Homo sapiens: one gene and its partner. The protein of the gene in region 1 binds, or shares a complex with, the protein of each later gene. Each region holds a gene or a part of one and is shown on either strand. Other genes may lie near its edges.

Region 1 (11,014 bases):
TTAACATCATCATATTCCATATCTCTCAAATCTGATTTGATTTTCATTACAATAGAGAAATAAGTGTGATTAGTATTATCCCCATTTCCTTCACCGGGAGGCACATTGTTTTAGTATCAAAAGCAGCTACCTTGGGAGAATCCGGGGCTAGAAACCTGACTTCATTTCAAGTTTTACTCTTGTTGCACCAAAACCTTGGGTGAGTTAGTTTCTCAGCCTCAGTCCCCTCATCAGGAAAATGCTGTGTTAGCACTTTCTGTGAAGAATGATCAAAGGAGTGGAGATTATGGAGATTATAAACACACTTGACACAGTAAGTGTTTAAGAACTGGTAGCTGATTTTTACAAAGTTATGGGTCATAGAAGGCAGTTTAGAGAAAAGGGCAGGCTTTGGAGTAGCTCAGTTGTATTATAACCTTGGCTTCTTTACTCACCTAGGACATACATTCTCTCTTTAGCTGTAGCTTCCTCCCTTCTGAGATGGAAATTATAAGCCATCTCACAGTGTTGTGAGGATTGGAGCTCAAGTGTGTAAAATGCCTCCTCTGTGGGCTCTCCTTGGAGAGTTCTTGTATCCTATTGATTGTCATCAAAGGAAAAAAGTGGCAGGATGATGGCATAAGTGGGAAGAACCTTGAGTTTAATAGTCTGAAAAAGTGGTTACAGGTTCTTGCTATGCTTTTCCTCTCTGTGGTTTTCTGAACCCATCGCCTAACCTGAAGCCTTAAACTTCATCTGCAAAAATGTTTTGTGGCAGGTAAGATGTCTTTTTTTTCTTCCAGTACTTCCCAGTTTAAAACTAAGAGTACTTCCTTGCTTATAACTAATTCTATTAATATTATTCTAGGTGACTCTGAAGCAGAACTCTTGAGATGGAAGGATTGTCATCTGAGGAAAAAAAATCAAGATTAAGAGAGGAGGAACTAGAATGAGATTCACATACCGTCTCTCCTCCAAGGGAAGGAGAGAGTGGTGATGCCTGCCCACTCCTTCCTGGGCAGAACATTTGTAGCATGGAACATTGGAGAATTTGCAGTCTGCTGACTTTCTGATTTAGGAGGTTGATGGGGAGGCCTTATAATTTGCATTTCTAACAAGTTCTGAGGTGATGCTTCAAGTATGTCCAGGCAGAAGGGCTGCCTCACAGAGAATTCTGCCATACCACATGGGAATTGAAGTCACAGACATCTCTAACCCTCAAGCCTGAAACCAAAAGACTGAAAACCAACACTACAGTGGACAAAGAACATCTCTGAACTTGTGTGGGGACCAGTGACACAAGGACCTAAGGTCTCTCTCTTCTCATCTTGGCACTTCAGAAGTCTCCCCAATCTTGACAAAGCCCTGGAGAAAGGGCCGGGCCTCCCGTTGATAAGAATATCACTGCAGATAAATGGAGGTTTCAAATTGAAAGAAAGGAGGAGGGCCTCCTGTTGATAAGATTATTGTCACTGCAGGTAAATGGAGGCTTCAAATAGAAATACATTTCAGTTACAGAAAAAAAAATTATCTTTGTTACACATTTGAGTTTGCAGGCCTAAGGTTACTCCCGCTACACTATCATCTGTAACCATAACGCACTCAACATTTTAAGCTAACTATAAGGATTGTTGCTTCACTCAAAGATCCTGAGGTTTTATTCACTAACATTTTTATTTGGTGACTATAGTTGACAAGAACAAAGCTGTGGGGAACCAACAAACACTGCAATGCCTGGCATTGTCACCTCACTAGATTGTGAGTTCCTCTGGGACAGGGTCCGTACATTTTCTTAGAATCCCTCACTTAGCCATTAGCCTGCACAGTGCTTGTACTTAGTAAGTGCTCAGTAAATGTTTGTGGAATGAATGCATGATGAACAAAATATATACTGAGGACTCTTGGTGTTGATTCTTGTTGATAATGTAATAGTTAAGATATGTTATAAATATGTTATAAATATTGTATCAAAATATTGTATCAAAAATATACTTGAACAGGCTGGGCGTGGTGGCTCACACTTGTAATCCCAGCCCTTTAGGAGGCTGAGGTGGGTGGATCACTTGAGGTCAGGAGTTCGAGACCAGACTGGCCAACATGGTAAAACCCCATCTCCACTAAAAAAAAACAAAAGTTAACTGGGCATGGTTGTGGGTGACTGTAATCCCAGCTACTCAGGAGGCTGAGGCAGGAGAATCGCTTGAACCCGGGAGGTAGAGGTTGCAGTGAACCAAGATCGCACCACTGCACTCTAGGGGACAGAGCAAGACGCCTCAAAAAAAAAAATGTATATATATAGTATATACATACACATGAGCATAAAGGAGCTTCAATGTGAAGGTAATAATTTAAGCAACATTTCACATTTTGGACCTGTGTTGTTAGCTATTTAGAACAGTTAAACTACTAGCTTGCTTTTAAATCCATTGTCTTAGTCATTTCAAGTTGTTATAACAAAATACCATACACTGAGTAGTTTATAAACAACAGAATGCATTTCTCTCAATTCTGGAGGCTGGGAAGTCCAAGATCAAGGTGCTGGCAGATTGTGTGTAGTGAAGATCCATTCATCAGAGATGGCACCTTCTCGTTGTGTCCTCACATGGTGGATGGGGCAACAGGCTCTCTTAGGCTTCTTTTATAAGGGCAATAATTCATGAAGTTTCCACACTTATGATAGAATTACCTCCTAGAGGCCCCACTTCCAAATACCATCACCTTGAGGGTTAGGTTTCAACATACAAATTTTGGAGGTACACATTCAGATGATGACAGCACTCATAGGTTACCTTTCATCTTTGGGTTCTCAGTGCCTGCTACAACAGCACAAGAACAGTAAGTGTGTGCTGAATGAATACAGATGAATGAACCTTTCCCCATCCTCAGATACTTCCCAACTGAGCTCCACTATCACCAAACTTCTAGAGCACATTATTTTTTGCCTTATGATCTCGTTAGGTGGGTTTTTCTTGCACATACCACACTAATCCAGTGGTCCTCAAAATTGTGTGCCCATTAGAATCCTCTGGAGGGGTTGTAAAAATAGTTTGCTGGGTCCTAACCCCAGAGTTTCTGATTTAGGAGGTTTGGGATGGGGACACCAAAATTTGCATTTCTAACAAGTCCAGAGGTGATGTTGATACTGCTGGCTACCAACTCTACCTTATAAACCATTGCCCATTAAACTCTTGAGGGTAGAGACTGTCTTCCTCATTTCAGTATCTGCTGAAGCCTCTGGCATAGTACCTGGCACATAGGAGCTGCTAAAGAAGTAGTTGATTGAACAATAGTTCAAAAAAGTTTATTTTACTGAAGCTAGATTACAAGTATATGAATGTGTGTGTATATGTGATTAAATGAGCTATTACATGTAAAAGCTCTTAAAACATGGCACATAGTAAGCTGTTGCTTTAAAAAAAATAAAAAATGTAACCTTTCTTTGCTTATATTCTAAAATGACACCAACCATCCTACATGTGTGCTCTTAAATAGCTTATATATTAGAATAATGGAATCTTAGTACTAAAGGCTGGATGTGGTTGCTCATGCCTGTAATCCCAGCACCTTGGGAAGCCGAGGTGGGTGGATCACTTGAGGTCAGGAGTTCAAGACCAACCTGTTCAATATGGTAAAACCCTGTCTCTACTAAAAATACAAAAATTAGCCCTGCGTGGTGGTGCATGCCTGTAGTCGCAGATACTTAGGAGGCTGAGGCAGGAGAATTGCTTGAACCTGGGAGGTAGAGGTTGCAGTGAGCTGAGAAGATTGTACCACTGCACTCCAGCCTGGGCAAAAGAGACTGTCTAAAAAAAAAAAAAAAAAGTAATCTAGTTAATATTTCAATATTGAGCATCAAGAATTTTTAAAAATTGGTTGAGTGTTTTCTACATGCAGAAAGATACAGCAGAGAGCATAGACACAATCCTTGCCCTCCCAAGCGTATACCCAGCGAGAAAGTGAGAAGCACAGAGTATGTGTAAGCATAAAAATACTAAGTTTTGAGAGTAGACAGCAACTATGAAAATATTCAGTTATATCGATGCAACTCAGTCTTCATTAATTGTTCTCATCGGAGCACATCTTTTTCACATTCTGTAAAGTAACGCTCGGTATGGGCCCAAGGAATATTTAATAAATATTTAAAAATGAAGTTAATAATTGTTTTGAAAGCCATATGGTTGATATTTCTTCTTAAATGTAACCAATAGAAACAACATAAGGAATTTGGCCTGTGCATATATTTGCACATTTATGGTACAGGCATTTACATGGAGGTGCCTGTCATTTGTGACACAGACTTCTCATCAAGTTTCAGAAGGAACAGATGTTTCTAGATGGAATAATATGGAGCTTGCCATTGTAAGAATCCTGTAATAAATCCTTTCATAAAATAAATATATCTGAATTATCTCTTGTTATACATTTTCACTCCTGGATCATCTAAAGTAGAACACAAAGATTGTTCATAAACTATTCATTCAAAACAACTTTATATAAAAAGAATTACTGTTGCTGAATTCTGGATTCTTATTGTTGCTCTTTCTTACTAGCATGGGGTTTGGGACAAGTCACCTTTTTAAATTTTTTTATTTATATTTTCCTAAGTGAATTAACACAGGAAGTCATTCACCTTTCTTTGCCTCAAAGAATTAAATTTATTCTTTGACGCTATTAAGTAAATTAATAGCGTCTACTTCATTGCTCAGTCACTAGCAGTTTCTGAAGTCACTGTCTGGCAGTCAGTAGATATCACCTCTGTAACTAGTCTTGTGCAGCTCTCTGTGATGTGATCTGGTAGAGGACTAAGATACAAAAGCACAAGGGTGAATTCTAGGACCACCTGAGCCAGTGATTAGTTGATGACAAGTCACATAGTCTCTGTGAGCCTGGGTAAAATGAAGAGACTGGATTTGCTCTTGTACCTTCCCAATCCCTGGCTCCACTAGCTGTTGGCCACCTTAGACTTGAAGGTCCATTCACTGCTGCTTGCCCTTGAAGCTCAATTGCTGGTCAGAGCTTTACACTCCTGGGAAGCCAGTCCCCTACCTGGAGGCTGAGCCGGTGACACTGGTTCCACTGGGTCACAGCTGAAGCACCACTGGGGATGGGGCATTTATGTGGCCATGAGTCACACTAGGGTAGGGGTAGAGGGCAAGTCACAGGAAGATTGTTGGGTTTTTTTTTTTTTTTTTTTTTTTTGGCCAGTTTCTTTTCTTTCTTTTTTTATCCCTTTGAAACAGAAGACCATGGCGTACAATCTGGTATCTGCCTTCAGGGTTGGGATAATATCTTTGTTTTACAATACTCAGAGTGGCTGGAAGAAAGCTGAGGCCACAGGTCACTAGCAGGTTCTAAAGTCTGAAAATCCCTGGGAAAATTTGACTTTTTATATGCTAATAATTGAGTACTGACAACTCTGGAGGGAGCTTTCCAATTCTTCCGTCATGAAAGTGGACTTTGTATACTAAAGAGGGGTTCATGGATTCATGGTAACCTACAATTCTTCCTTGCGGCCTGAACCAAAGGAATAGCAGCTACAGTTGGGTTTTCCTAAAAGGAGTAAGATAGTCCCAGGCCTCCCTTCTCAAATAAGTGTATCAAGCAGGTGGACTCTGCCAGTCGGGGGTCCCGGTCAATCCCTAGGGCCCTGGGGCGCCATGGGCCTCGTGGGAGGGCTGCGCATCCCAACCATGCCTTCGTCTCCTGGTGGGGCACCGGCGGTACGTCCGATCCTCCAGCCCGCGTGGTCAGGCGGCCGCGGGCCCAAGCATTTCCCAGGGCCCAAGCATTTCATTCATTTATTCATTCACGCAGCAGGTATTTCCCGGGCGCCCTCCTCCTGTGTAGGTGACAGAAACTGGGTGGCGAGCGAGCCAGGCAAAGCCCGGCTTCCCTGAAGCTCCCCGCAGCGGCGGGGGCGGAGAAGAGACCTCAGCCCCGCGGGCTCGCACAGCTGGCGCGGACCACGCTCTCGCCCGGGGCCGGCGGCCTCAGCGCCCCCCGAATGAACACCTTCCGCCCGCTGGCCGCCCCGCGAGGCGGGCCGTGTCGTGGCCCCGGTGCACGGAGGGGGACGCCGAGGCCCGGAGCAGGGCCCGTCTCGGCCTGTGCTCGGAGCCAGGCGGCAGGGCCCGCGGGCCGGCGGGCGGCGCGGAGACGGCTGCGCTCCCGCCCTCCGCCAGCGCCTGGCGGCCGCCCCACGTGACGGGAAGCGGCGGCTGCGGGGTCGGGCCAGCCCAGGAGCCGCGGGCCGGAGCGGGGCGGCGGGGCCCCAGGCCGCGGGGCGGCGCGGGACGGCGGGCGCCGGCGCCGGTGAGTGAGGAGGGCGGCGGGGCGCGGGGTGCGGGGCTCAGGGCGCGGGGCGCGTGGGGCAGGAGGGCGGGGAGCAGGAGTGGGGGGTAGGCGGCGGGGCGGGGTGGAGGGCGAGCCCGTGCGTGTGCGCTGGGGCAGGTGTAGTGGGGGCTGGAACGCGGGGTGGGGGGAGCAAGTGGCTATACACTTGGGGGCAGGTGTGCGGGTGTGCGACTTGGTAGCTGTCCCTTGTGGGGGCCGGCTAGCCTGCTGGGGTGAGCAAATAAGTGTTCACGTGTGTGTGGGATGAAGTGTGCACGGGTGTGGGGTCAAGTGTGTATGTTGTGTGTGAGGAGTGCGTGTGTGTTTAGGGCAAGGGAAGACCTGAGAGACCTCGTCCTTGATTTGGGTTTTCCGGGGAGAAGGGCCAGGAAGGACTTGCACCTCCATCCCTGGTATGGAATGGTTTTGGCGCTGTGATTGAGGTTTCTGGGAGCTCTTTGGATTTGAGAGCTCAAATTCGGGTCACACTCAGGCCTGAATTGTCCTGATCTGGAGAGTAGGCAGGGGTGTGTTGGGGAGTAGGGAAAAGTGCTGTGCTGGGCTTCCTGGCCCCTGTTTTTAGCACCAGGTCAAGGGCTGGAAGCTGTCATCCCTGTGGAATTGTTTTCTTTCCATTGCCTTCTGGAGGTGCAGGTGCAAGTTAGTCCGCCTGCCTCCCTGTGTTAAGTGTTGATATCCTTAAACACGGAAGCTGTCCGGTTGTCTGCACCTGCCGTGGCTTCTACCCAAGGACTGTTGAGTGACCCTCAGGAAGCCTCCTACCTGGCTGCTAAAAATGGGGGCTCACAGATCACACAGCAGGCCTTACTGCACGTGGACTGCACGCGCAGCTGTGGTCAAAACATGTCTGAGCAGAGTTTAATCACTGATGAAGTGCTCATGGGCAAGCACCTTGTCTATCAGGAAGGAAGGCAGCTGCGGGTGTGATTGTGGTGGCAAGTTAAGGCACTGAGAAGGTGTGCAGGGAAGATCCTACTGCGTTGTGTGTGTTGGCTTGGTTGGAGTCAGGATGAACGAATGTAGAGGGACTGTGTGGTGGCTGCTACTCTCTCATGGTGGACATGCTTCTCTCTGTTGGTCAGCCGGAAGCTGGCAGACAACTGAGAGCTCGCAGTTCCATGGTCAGTCAGAAGGAACATTTGGTCAGCTGCTTCCTTTTCTTTTTCCTTCCATTTCTGCCAGCCGAGCAGCCTCAACAGTCATTGCAGCTGCTTCTGTGATGTGTAGCAAAACGCTGCCTGGAGTACTAGAAAGTCTACTGGCTGGAATCTGCTGGAACCTGTCCATAACTAGCCTGCCCCAGGTCATCTATGAAATGGGAGTGATGCTCTGTGGTGGTAATGAATGTGGAGTGTGGGTTCAAATCCTGCCTCTGCCATTTCCTGTGACCTTTGGGCAATTTGCTGGACATTCTGAGTCTCAAATTCCTCCATCAAAATAGGGATAATATTAGAAAAGGCACATGAATTCTAATAAGAAATTGTGCCTGGAAAGGATCCGGCACAGGGTCTGGCATTTAGTAGGTGCTCAATAAATTATTGCTGACAAATATAAATGAGGATGTAGAGCCAGGTCTCCCTCAGCTCTGAAAATATGTAGTTTTATGTTTTGAGTAATTGTTAACCTAACAAATGATTTACTCTGGAGTTAGACTTGTGGGTTCTGAATTCCAATTTGCTATGTGCATCAAGGTTTGCATTACACAATTGAATTGGGTGAGAGGTGAGGTGCCACTGTTAGCCTTCATTCACTCTGCCTTTTCTTCTACACTCATGATTGTGCATGGCAGTCCTCTTGTCATAGCATTGGAGGCAGAGCGTTTTCACCACTGCAGGAATCCCAGGACCAATCTAACCTCAGCTTAAACCCTCCAGAGACAGGGATTTGTAAAGGGCCCATTCTTCATTTAGGCAGCTCCAGTTGAGGAGTTTTAAAAGCATAGAGCTCACTATTTTAAAAATGCTATATTTTCTTTTTGTTGTTGTCTTCTGGGTGGTTTTTTTGCTGTTGTTTTTGAGACAGGGTCTTGCTCTGTCACCCAGGCTGGAGTGCAGTGGTGTGACCATGGCTCACTGCAGTCTTGATCTCCCAGACTCAAGGGATCCTCCCACCTCAGCCTCTCAAGTAGCTGGGACCACAGGCTCGCACTACCACACCCAGATAATTTAAAAAATTTTTTTTGTAGAGATAGGGGTCTCCCTGTGTTGCCCAGGCTGTTCTCAAACTCCTGGCCTCAAGCAATCCTCCTGTCTTGGCCTCCCAAAGTGCTGGGATTACAGACCTGAGCCGCTGCGCCCAGCCAAAAAACTTGCTGTATTTTCTGGGTCTGATATGCAGCTAACATTTCTGTTAGGAAAAAAAAAATGAAGTTATTTGGCTTATTCCTTCATGCTAATATTACAAATTTGTGATCTTTTAAGAAAACTTGAAGAAATTTTACTTAATGGGTTAAGTGTCTTCATCTTGGTCTGAATCCAGCCCTCATTAGAAATACATTAAAGTAGTCATTTGTGGCAGCCAGGTGTTTGGATACTGCCGAATAATTTGGCTCAGACTTTACAACTCATCTCTGTAGCAAACCTGACTCGTTTTTCTTTATTTAAAAAAATAAATACCTACTAAATGAATGTAGAGTAACAACTTAATTTGGTGCTACCCCAAATGACTTTAAGTGCCTCATGAAAAGTGAATTATGAAATCTTGCAGATGATTTGAAATCAAGATCTTTTCTTGATAGTCAAGTAACTGCTGTTGAAAAAGTTAAAGATTTAAGGAAAAAATCACATATTTAAAGATGACAACTGACTGGATATTATGGACTATCAAGTCCTGTAGGTACTCAATAATTTTTTTTTTCTTTTTTTGAGACAGGGTCTCACCCTGTCACCCAGGCTACAGTACAGTGTCGTGTTCTCGGCTCACTGCAACCTCCATCTTCCAGGCTCAAGTGATCCTTCCACTTTAGCCTCCCAAGTAGTTGGGGCTATAGGCACATGCCACCATGCCCGGCTAATTTTTGTATTCTTCTATAGAGACAGAGTTTCACCATGTTGCCCAGGTTGGTTTTGAACTCCTAAGCTCAAGCAATCCATCTGCCTCGGCCTCCCGAAGTGCTGGGATTATAGGCATGAGCCACTGCTCCTGGCCAGTACTCGATAATTTTTTGTGGCTGTTTGAAGGTTCAGTATTGAGGAAGATGTTATGAAGTAAATGCCATATTTCTATTCTGCTCTTCTTCTACCTCCCACTTCTCTTCCTAAACCCTTTTAATTCTAACTGCTGATGGTACTCTTATAGGATGTATATTATATATATGTACATACACACACACATACACCCTTATGCATATGTATGTATACACACACCATATATAGTATGTGTATATATGTGTGTGTATATAAATATATGTTTATATGTATTTAAATAATTTTGATTAGTATTGCCCAGTAAAAAGGATACCAACTATGAATAGTTACATATATTAAATATACATCATGATAATATTAAGATGACAAGTTAGATATTAGACCTTAACTGTCTTTTTTTAATCCTCTTTTTTTAGATACTCTTGCAGATTATCAGAGCAGGTTCATTGCACTATAACTAATCTTGCTGTCTCTGTTGCATGAGTGCAAAAGATAACATAAAATGGTTGTCAAGCAGTATCTTCATTTTCAAAGGGGGGAAAAGTTGACTTTTGTACAAGCCAGTAAATTTATTGTTGATTCCTGACAAATTTCAAGATTGAGTCATTCAACAGATGGCTGTGGGACTTAGAGAAGAACACGGGACCAGCATGGGGTGCAGCTCAGGAAAAGCAGTTGCTGTCACATAAATGTGTATCCTGTTTTGGTAGATTACTATGTTAGTAGAGAACTGTGTCAACATACTATTCTGTGTCTGAATTTCAGCAAGCAGATAGAGCCACAGGATTCCTCTTCTAGACTCACGGTGGGGAAGCAATAGCAAAGACTCCTCAGGAACTGCAGCAGCATGCCACTCTAAGTACCATAGTGGCCTCCTGCTGAGAGTTGTTGCTTTGTTCAGAACTGAATTCTAGGAGAGGATCTGAAATCATACTTGTTCCCCTCAATCAATAAGAATATGGCCTTGGAGTCACGAACAAAAACTAGGGTCAAAGCCCTGTTTCATCACCTTGTAGCCAGGTAACCTTGAGCAAGCCACCTAAGATCTCTGTATCTCCATAATAATGTCCACCTCTCAGCGTCAAGGTAAGAACGAAAGGATAATGCTATATCGAGTGTGCAGTATCCCACCAAACCCAGTTTTGGGGCTCTCCTGAGGGGGCAGTCAGGGTGTCAGCCAGGGCTGCAGCCTATGGGTGCCATCCATCATCCAGGCTTGGGGCAGCATTGGCCTTGGGAGCCAGTGTGGCATCTGATTAAGGATGTGTGCTTTGGAGCTGACTACCTGGGTTGGAATCCCAGCTCTCTACTTACCAGCATGACTCTTCCACCTTTCAAGACCTCCATTCCCTTCCTCTTCATCCAGAAGTAGCTGGAGAATGGTATAGGAGAAGCACACAGCCCAGTCCAAATTTCTGTTTTATAGAGAACACAGGCCCAGACAAAGCCTCTTAGTGAGTTGCCTAAGATCATCAGGAAGTGACCAAGCAACAAGCAGAGCTCAGGATTCCCAGATTAATGTCGGGAATGTCTGC
Region 2 (10,732 bases), on another chromosome or scaffold:
TGAATCACTTACAGAGAACCAATTTTATGCCTCTCCAGCCTGCTTGGACATTTTGACTCAATGAAGTTTGCATATGTATACATGCAAACACAAAACTAAAGACTCCTGATTTTTAGATTAAAAACCCTGTACACCAGGTTTTGGTTTTGGCTTTTAAAATCATTATTATTTTCATTATTATTTATTATTTTTTTGAGACAGAGTCTCGCTCTGTTACCCAGGCTGGAGTGCAGTAGCACGATCTCGACTCACTTCAACCTCCGCCTCCCAGGTTCAAGCGATTCTCCTGCCTCAGCCTCCTGAGTAGCTGGGATTGCAGGTGCCACCACGCCGGGCTAATTTTTGTATTTTTAGTAGAGACGGGCTTTCGCCATGTTGGCCAGGCTGGTCTCAAACTCCTGACCTCAGGTGATCCATCCTCCTTGGCCTACCAAAGTTCTGGGATTACAGGCGTGAGCCACCTCATCCGGCCAAATTATTTTAATAAGCTTGATTCTTTAGAGTGATTTTAGGTTCACAGCAAAATTGAGAGGAAGGTACAGAGACTTCTCATACACTGCCTGCCCCAGGCACAGATGGTCTCCTCCACCAGAGTGCTACATTAGTTACAGCTGATGGACCTGCACTGACACATCATTACATCATTATCATCCACATCTACAGTTTACCTTAGGGTTCATTCTCGGTGTTGTACATTTTGTGGCTTTGGACAAATTTATGATGTTTCCACTATTATAGCATCATACAGAATCATTTCACTGCCCTAAAAGTTCTCTGTGCTCCAACAAGTTCCCTTTTTAAAAAAGGAAAAGAGGCCAGTTTATTTTGTGATTGTGAGCAAAAAAGAAATGACAAAGGCATCCATCTCCTATTCTCTGCCTTTTGCTCTCAGGAACAGACATTTTTTTCCTTCAGAAGAGATGTGGCTTATTCTAGATGCAGGGGTAATAGTGATGTCTGGGTCGAGGTCTGCATCCTTCACTCTTGGGGAGAGCTGGAGGCAATAGAGCCGGTGTAAGGACACCATCCAACTGTGGCAGCCCTCAGTGGCGCCCTCTTCTAGCTCCTGTGCACCCCGCAGGCCAGCCCTCACTGCTTCCCAAGGCTCTGAGAGCTCACATGCAACCTTTTTTCTCATTGGCTTAATTTCTCTTAAGACCACTTCACAAAAGCTCCATTGTAATCACTATCTGCTCAACTGCTTTCTCTTACTTACAAGTTTAGTAAACACAAACATTCTTCTGTCTAGGTCTTACTGACCTGTAGAAAGTTAACTGATGAATGGTACATTTTAAGTCAAAACATACTCTCTGAACCCCAAACATAGTAGAGCTTTTGGTACTCTTTCCAAAAAGAAGAAAATCATTACACTATTCTATATGGAAAAATTCCAATATATAAGCTGATGCAAATTTTGCCTTGCAAAAAAATCTCAATACCTGTGTTTAGATAAGTACAAATGAAACTTTAAGAAATTCCAGTATCACTGTTTCTCAAACTTGGATATCGTTCAGATCCTTTGTAAGGGGAAAAGATTCTCACAGATATCTAGAGTTAGCTTATAATTTTTTATAATGTTGCATACATATATGTGTATGTATATATGCAAACACAAAACTAAGAGCTCCTGATTTTTATAGATTTTATGCATCTATAAAACTAAAAAAATAAATTGAATACAAACAAAACTACCAAATGAGGAAATGCAAATCTACAATTTTGATTTAATATAAGGAATGATATTTTGCTGGAGCCAATATTCACATGAATATTGTAATACTGTGTGATGACTCAATTCTCCCACTACCCTTTGTTAGTGCAGCACACCACAATATAATTTGCCTATAACTTGGTGTGACCACATCATTTATTTTAAACATCATTCTCTGTTTTTTTTTCCTCACAAGTCTGTAACAATTCACTCAGTACTATTTGCAATCACAAATCCAGCAGTGAAACTGCATTCCCAGAATAATTATAAAGGGCTGATAAATTTATATAGATATTCCACTCCAATAGTAATCCCATACAGGTTAAAATGAGAGACCATTTCATCTATCATATTGGCAAATCTTTTTTTTTTTAAGATAAAATAAATGCCAGTGGGGGTGCGTGTGATGGGCACCACTGAGAGCTTCTGGTGAGAATGAAAACTGGCCTGACATTTCTGGAAGGCAGTTTGACCACGGGTATTCACAGACTTAAGAGTTTTCAAAGCCTTTGAATCAGTAATTCCACTTATAGGTTGCTAGCCTAAGGAAGGAAATAATTTTAAAATGTGGGCAAAGATAATGTGTAAGGATATTCATGGCAATGTTCTTGTTAGCAGTAAAAAATAGGAACTCCTGTATATGTCCAAAAATAGTGGAATAATGAAATACATGAAACTATATCATTAATAATTATGTAGCCATGACAAATAATATTTGTGAACAATTTTAGTGATGGTGGATAGTGCTCAAGATATAATAGTGAAAAAAAGAGGATGGATTATTAACTATATATCCTATAAATATATAGAATACACAACTAAATATTCTATGCAGTTCTATTATGTCACAAATGTAAATATACAAAGAAAAAGATCCAACGGATAAGCCAAAACTATAAGTGCCTTTTTCTGGGATGTGGGTAATTTCTGCTTTATTTTAAAATATTTCCTGAATTTTCCAAGTTTTCTACAATAAGCACACATTTTTTTTTATTATTATTAAGGCAAACAGCCCTGGAAAGGATAGCATTTGAGATTACTTCCTGCTGTGAACAGAGGTACATAAAAGGGCTGTTACTTTGGAGAGGTCTCAGAGTCAGTCTGGACCATCCTAAAATATTCTTTATTATAAGTTGAAATCTGCCTCTCTGCAACGTCCATACACAGGTCGTAGGCTTGCTTTCTTTCTACAGCTATTCAGAATAAGTCTATGAGTGTTGCAGAGATATTTCAAAAGGGTCAGTTTTTTAAAGTAATGGCAAAAACCGCAATTACTTGTGTACCAACCTAATAGCTACCTTTCCACTGCTCACCCCTATGACCCTGCTCTCCCCTACTTCTGCTAATTTCTTTTCCTCTGGATACTTTCAAAAGTTCTCTGTCACACAGGCTTTCTGGTCTCACCAGCTTGCTTATCCTTCTGTAGACAGTCTCTAGTTTAATAGCTTTACTAGAAAAATGTGATATTCAGAACCAAAGGCCGGTTTCCAGCCTTCTAAAGCACAGCTATCATCTTGCCACTCCTCTGCTCGAGTTCCTCTGGAGACTCTCACCAGAAGAGCAGAACACCCCAGCTTAGCGTGCAATGTCTTCCTGGATCTGGTCCTAGCCTTTCCAGCCTCATAGCCCACCACATCTCTAATACACACTACACCAGTGTCTTCAAACTATGGGTTGCTCTGCATCACTGAGTACTGAAATGAATTCAGTAACCAGCACTTAAAAAAAGAGAATAGAATAGAAAATACCAAGTTGCATTGTACACTCTAAGGGCAATTACTGTTTCAGCATATCTATCTATCTATCTATCTATCTATCTATCTATCTATAATGCACACTCACACATATGCGCATACTGTGTGTGTTTTTATACTAGGCCATGGCTGAAATGTATCTTTTTTTTTTTTTGAGACGGAGTCTCACTCTGTTACCCAGGCTGGAGTGCAATGGCACAATCTTGGCTCACTGCTGCAACCTCTGCCTCCTGGGTTCAAGCAATTCTCCTGCCTCAGCCTCCCGAGTAGCTGGGACCACAGGTGCATGCCACCACACCTGGCTAATTTTTGTATTTTTAGTAGAGACAGGGTTTCTCCATGTTGGTCAGGCTGGTCTTGAACTCCTGACCACCTGCCTCAGCCTCCCAAAGTGCTGGGATTGCAGGCATGAGTCACCGCACCTGGCCTGAAATGTATTTCTTACTGTGAGGGATGATTAAAAGAAGGTTGAAAGCCACTGGCCACACCACGGCTACATCAGGCCAATAACTAGTTCCCAAACTTGCTTTGTACTGCCTTTGATCCCACCCTTCCCTCAGCTAGGCATTCTCCCTGCTCTCTGCTACTGAAATCCTTCAAGGCCCTGACAAGATACCACATCCTTCCTTGAGTGTTTCACCCTTTCCCCCTGTCTGTGCGAAAATGGTGGTTCAATGTCTTTCTTTATATTACTCAAAACAGCCTGCCTTGTATTTTGTTATGTCTGTACACTGAATTCTTAGAAAATAAATACCTGGAGGACAGGGCAACACCTTCGGGTCTTCTGAAGGCCCAGAAGTCTAGTGAACCTAGCTGATGCTCAAAAATGTCTGCCCAACCGAATATTTTCTGTATCTCCTTCCAAGAGTATCTTCTGGTGTTCTTCCTCCTGTTTTCTTGACCTATATAGCCCCCAGCAGGCCTAAAATCTGTGTCCTGGGGCTAATGTTACGTACAGTGATGACTCTAGAAACCAGTCTGTTCTGAAAGCTTTCACCTTTCTTCAGGAGCGATAAGAGAAATAAGCATACGTTTTTGTTCATTTTTCAGATGTTTCCTTTATTTGAGACTATGTTTCTCCTGTATTTTTGGTGTTAAGATGTATTTTGGGGAGCAACACTGATGATATATTACAAGATAATAGTTGGTATTTTAGTATGTGTGTGCCTATTGTACTTATTTGACACAATAAATAGGCAATTCTGAGTTCATCTTTTAAAAAAAAAAAAAAGTTAAAAAAAATTTACTGGTTGCAAACTCCAAAAGGCAGGGAATCAACTTCCCTTCTGGGCTGGCTGCAAGTAAGTTCACTTTCTTAAAGGAGGAGCTTTCTCCTCTCACCTCAAGGACTGTTATTTATTTGTCTGCGCTACTCTTTCGACGTTTCCATTCTCTTGGTCCTCAAGATGTGAATCACCCATTTTTTCCGTAGGGGGGAAGACGGCGTATCTCTGGCCCTTTAAATAGGGGCGTGGTGAAGAGGCGCGGACCGCCCAGGAGGGGGAGCAGTGCGAGGAGGAAAGCGGAAGCGCTGCCCGCAGTGGTAGGTAGTGCGCGTGCGTGAGGCTAGAGCAGTGGGTGCGGTCACGTGGGCCGGCGGTCCACGGCCGGAATGGCAGCAAGCTCAGGTAACGAGTTTCCAGAGAGCGGGCCCGTGGAAGGAGACAGGATTGAGGGGCCGTATTCAGGGTAGGAGGAGAGCGCGCGACAGGTCTCTGAGCCTCGGCGTCTCCTCCCCGCGCGACAGCGGCGGGACCTCGGGGAGCGAACAGAGCAGCCCCTGACGGGCTAACCGGACCCGAGCCACGGGCCGGGCGGGGTTGATTCTCGAGTGGAGGGGCGTGTCGTACGTTGGCCCGGAACTGGGTCGGGCAATTTCCACTTACTGGTTCCAAATGAATGTGAAAATTCAAATGGGCTTAAGTAAAAAGGGATTTATTGGCTCCAAACCTGGAAGGGGCTGAGGTATCACTAAATCCAGTGACTCCGGTGATGTATTTGTGTATCTCTCCCTTTCTGCAAAGGGCCAGTAACCCCTCAGTTCCCTATCTACTTTGCGACTATAATTGCAAGCCTCATTCTGTCCTGTTACAGTCGTGCGGCAATTAGGCTGAGGGACTGGCGCGCCCGCTCCCCCGACTGTGAGCCTAGGCGGCGGGTGTCATGCCCCTCCCCACTCCCGGGCGGAACAGGTGTGTAGCCGGTCTGTCGGGCCTGGGAAACAGGTGTGGACCCCTTTAGCCTCCAGGGACTGATATCAAGGTGCCTGAGCCTGAGGCTTAGATGGGGTGTCCACCTCTTAGGATCGGTGCGCACCCTGTGAGGCTGGTTCCAGTTTGTCTCCGCGTGCAAGTTGTGCACCAGAGTGAGGGCAGCAGGGTGAAAGGTGGGCCTCTGAAGTTCGAGGCTACTCCTGTGCCTTGGCCAGTTCTTTGTGCTTGGCATCTGGGGAAGGAGGGAAACAGCTGCTCAGAGTGTCTGGGTGTACAAAATGGGGGTGCTTTACAGGAGGATAGGGTGGGAGGAGGTAGGATCGGTGAGAGGTTCCATGGCCGTGGGTTATCAGGAATAGCTAGCTGGGGAGCCTTCTTTAAATAAGCAGGCCCCCTCCACTTCTTAGATTCTTGTTAGAATGAATAGGAAGGCTTCTGGCCTCTGCACCATCCACCCTCTACCATACTCTACTTTCCCCTACTGAAAAACCCCAAAACCCAAGCAAAACAAGCATGGATGTTAGCTTGTGGTGCTAAACCTTACTCCAAATGTCTGCATTTGGGAGACAATTACATGTTAATTGTCTGTGTATGTCTATGTCTGCCTGTGTGGGTTTGAGGTATATCTAATATAAATGTGGATGGAGAATCTGCATATGTTTGTGTAAGACGTGGGTTTGCTCATGGTTAAATTTAAGCACAGAATAGGTATTGAATCCTCTGGCAATAGCTGGCCTGTTCCATAGAATATGCAATAAAGATAAATGGAAAAAAAATTCGTTGAACTACTGGGCTTTATATGGTCAAAGAGGCATTTGTGAGAAAATTCTTTCCAGAGCTCTAACAGAGTAATATGTTGATTTTTTCTTTATATTTAATATATTTGCTTCGTATCTGGACCATTGTCAGCAGATGGATGTTTTCTGTCTTCCAGAATATTGGGACATGTTGGTGATTCTTAGCTGTATCTCACTATTCCATTGACATTTCAACCAGTGTGACACAAAATGTCAGTTATGTATGTGAATGAGAAGTAAGATCTTTTGAATTTAATGAAGTATGTTTAACTTTGGATCTATTGATAGCTTTCATAGAGTTTAGATCGTATGTTCTCTTGATCCACAGCTGTAGGTGTCATCGGTACATAGTGGTAAGATCAAACTGTTGTATTCTTAACTGAATCTTGAATGAATATTTGACTTATCTTCACGCTGTATGACATTATTAAATGTGTTCTGTGTTTTAGCAAGGAAATATAGCTTTGCGTTGGATTTTTCACTGTTATGAATTTCTTAGGTTTACTGTAATAGCAATTATACTTTTTTAGTCAAAGATATTTCTGTTGCAAGTGACAGAAAATTCAAATGGGCTTAAGCTAAAAGGGATTTATTGGCTCCAAACCTGGAAGGGGCTGGGGTATCACTATATCACTAAATCCAGTGACTCCAGTGATGGAGTACTTGTGTCTCTCTCCCTTTCTGCAAAGGACCAGTAACCCCCAGTTCCCTATCTCCTCTGCAACTGTAATTGCAAGCCTCATTCTTCCTGTTACAGTCATGGGACAGTTAGGGGATATGTTCTGAGAAATGTGTGGTTAGGCAAATTTTGTCATTGTGCATGCATCATAGTGTACTTACACAAACCTAGATGGTGTAGTCTGCTACACACCTAGACTATGTGGGATGGCCTGTTGCTGCTAGGCTATAAACCAGCACAGCATGTTACTGTACTGAATACTGTAGGTGGTTGTAACACAATGGCCAAGTATTTGTATATCTAAACATAGAAAAGGTACAGTAAAAATACAGTTTAAAAGATTGAAAAATGTGAACCTGTGTGGGGCACTTACCATGGATGGAGTTTGCAGGACTGGAAGTTGCTGTGGGTGAGGCAGTGAGTAGTGAGTGAGTGTGAAGGCCTAGGACATTATTGTACACTACTGTAGACTTTTTGAACACTGTACACTTAGGCTACACTGAATTTATTAAAAATTTTTTCTTTCTCCAATAATAAATTAACCTTAGCTTACTGTAATGTAACTTTTATGTTATAAACTTTTTAATTTAAAAAAGTTTTTAACTTCTTTGTGATAAAACTTAGCTTAAAATACAAACACATTGTACAATTAGCTGTACAAAAATATTTTCTTTATATCCTTATTCTGTTAGCTTTTTTCTATTTCAAAAAATTTTAATCTTTAAAAACGAAGACGCAAACACACACATTACTCTAGGCCTACACAGAGTCAGGAAGGTCCCGGTGGAATGTCTTTAGAGGCAGTAACACATAGGGAACTGTCATCTCTTATGATAACAGTGCCTTCTGGAATACCTCCTGAAGGACCTGCCTGAAACTGTTTTACAGCTAATTTTTAAATTTTTAAATAAGTGGATGAGTACACTCTAAAGATAAAAAGTATAGGATAGCAAATACATAAACTGGCACATAGTTTATTATCAAGTATTATGTACTGCACATAATTGTATGTGCTTAGCTTTTATACTACTGGCAGTGCGGTAGGTCTGTTTACATCAGCATCACCACAGACAGATGAGTAATGCATTCATTACAACAGCTGTGACATCACTGGGCTACAGGCATTTTTCTGCTCCATTATGTGTAATGTTAGGGGACCATGGTTGTATATGTGGTCTGTCGTTGACCCAAAACGTCTTTTTGGGGCACATGACTGTATATAAATGCATAAAAGATGTGACTGCAGATGACTCCTGTGTTATGCCATCCAAGATTAAGCACCCTAGAATAAAGAGAAATTCCAGAAGTACCTTGATTGGCCACATAGGACCCAAGAATGTGATGTGCCTACTCTTCTGCTCCGCTAGCTAGGCAGATAGGGTACTTGATTGGCAGCACCACCAAAATCACATGGTTGGAATGGAGGAGAAGCAGTTGCCCTCCAGGAAAGGTGGCAGTGGTGCTGGGGTGTTTTAACCTTTGTTTTTTCCGTTGCAGTTCAGCAAGACGCTTCCAGTTACTTCCTGCTCTTAAAAAAAAAAAAAAAAAAAGAATAAATCTCTCATGACTCTATATCCTTCTTGACACCTAACCAAGAGAAATTGAGATGACAGTTAATTGCAAATTAATAAAGAAGGCCATCATCTACTCAGCCTTTACCTAAGTGGAATCCTGTCTTTTGCGCATTTAACTTACAAGAATTTACCTGCATCAGTCAGTTATGTGAAGAAGAAAAGGGAATATATTTCAGCGTACACAAGGCCCTTGTGCTTTTTAGGAGGAGTTCTTTGGAGCTGAAGTGGGTCTGAGAAGAGACATTCTCATGATAGTGGAGACAGTATTATAGAAGCTGGAAGTGATCATTTTTCTCTGTTATTTATTTCACTTATTACCTCACACACATATTGATATAAAACTGATCAATAAAGTTAGAATTTCTACATTATCTAGATATTTGTAGACTTCGTTCATATTATTGTTTTGTATATTGTGATAGGGGATTAGATTTTTCTTTTCTAGGCTGGAGCTGATTGTCTGACAATTCATAGCAGTAACTTAGCACTCACTGTATACAGGAAGGTCTTAGGCACTGTTCCTTCCCCTTACTTTTCTTTTTAACATTTTTTAATCTGTATGTACTTATGATCACTCTCCTCATTTAGACATTCACCAACAACAGAAAGAGAAACAGAGGGTTGGGCTTTTTCGTCGTGGCAGTTCTGGCACTGTGAGCTACAATTACCTAAATGTGCCTTCTTGGAAAGAAATTCCAGGGTCAAGTAAAGCAGCCCATCCCAGTATATAGTAATGTTTCTCTAAATAGGGTCTGTATCTAAATGAATAAGGTGAAAATTGAGTACCCTCAAAGTACCCCAAGAGGGAGTCATATCAGAGACTGACAAGCGGTGGGTCTCTCAGGAAGCCCCATACGGCCAGATCTTGTTTTTCCATGTTGGAACTGCATGGCGTTTGTTATTTTGAGCACAGGTGACGTGAACTGCTTGGGTGTGAGGCATGTGAGAACTGAGACATAGAACAGCAGCTGACCATCTCCTATTCTGTGCCCACTGTGAAGCAAGAAGTTATTGAGTGGAGGTATGCAGAATCATGAATCATGATTCATAGAATCATCTATATGAATCATTTCTTTCTCTCCTTCCCGTTGCTGAAGATAATAGATGAAATCCTGCAAATTGAATGGAAGTATGGTACATTTCCACTGTATTCATCTTGGCCTCTAAGCTGAATTAACGTAAAAGAACATAAAACATCTGAGATTGTGGGATTTGCATCATGTTATAAATGAGCTAAGTGATTTAAAAATATCTCTCCTAGATGCAAAGAATGGAACTTGCACAGATGGAGGCGTTTTGGAGTAGTGTAACTAACCATACTTTGTATTACGTGACCAGAACTGCTATTTGAGATTCTGGAAGCCAGTGATGCAGTCTTGCTTGGGTATTTACCTAGGGAGGGAGGGAGGGAGGGAGGAATGGGTGGATGGGTAGATGGGTGGGTTGATCAGCTGCTGTGTCATATCGGCACGGGGAATAGAATGGTGAACAAGGCAGATCTGGTCTTTGCTCTCTCATGGAACCTGCATTCCAACTGGGGGCAAGGAATGGTGGTTTAGACAATGAGGAAATCATTACAATGTGGTAAGTGTAGTAAAAGAGGAGAACGATGTTATGGGTGCATACTAACAGGAAACAGCCTAGTTGAGCAGGGCAAAAAAAGGCCTTCCTAAGGAAGCAAAGTTTTAGCCGATAGTTGATAAATATGACCTGCAGTGGTTGACAAGCTTGACTACATATAAGTAGTATTCAATTATAACTTGGCTTCTTATGGTATAGATTCCTATATGCTGTGAGTCAAATAATATCCTCTGGAGCTTAACAATTACAAGTAATAACACTGATAGATTTAATTTGCAACACAGATGTTATTCCTGTCTCTTAGTTCCTATGTTAATCAAACATTTTTCGAATGTCTACCTAGCTGTGCAAGCCAGTAAGCCCAGTGATGTGGAATATTCAAAGGAGCATGGCCCCATTTTTATTATATAGCTGGGGAGAAAA

Evidence for each region.
Region 2: TGFBRAP1 (region 1) and VPS8 share a complex: the UniProt entries of both Homo sapiens proteins name them as parts of the putative class C core vacuole/endosome tethering (CORVET) complex.

What each region holds. Positions count from the first base shown.
Region 1 is NC_000002.12:105,324,902-105,335,915, reverse strand, and holds the start of TGFBRAP1 (transforming growth factor-beta receptor-associated protein 1), read left to right. Parts: upstream 1-6,180; 5' UTR 6,181-6,291; intron 6,292-11,014. UniProt on the Homo sapiens protein: Plays a role in the TGF-beta/activin signaling pathway. It associates with inactive heteromeric TGF-beta and activin receptor complexes, mainly through the type II receptor, and is released upon activation of signaling.
Region 2 is NC_000003.12:184,807,133-184,817,864, forward strand, and holds the start of VPS8 (vacuolar protein sorting-associated protein 8 homolog), read left to right. Parts: upstream 1-5,033; 5' UTR 5,034-5,093; exon of another isoform or gene 5,094-5,154; intron 5,155-5,374; exon of another isoform or gene 5,375-5,657; intron 5,658-6,612; exon of another isoform or gene 6,613-6,735; intron 6,736-8,651; exon of another isoform or gene 8,652-9,749; intron 9,750-9,989; exon of another isoform or gene 9,990-10,312; intron 10,313-10,732. UniProt on the Homo sapiens protein: Plays a role in vesicle-mediated protein trafficking of the endocytic membrane transport pathway.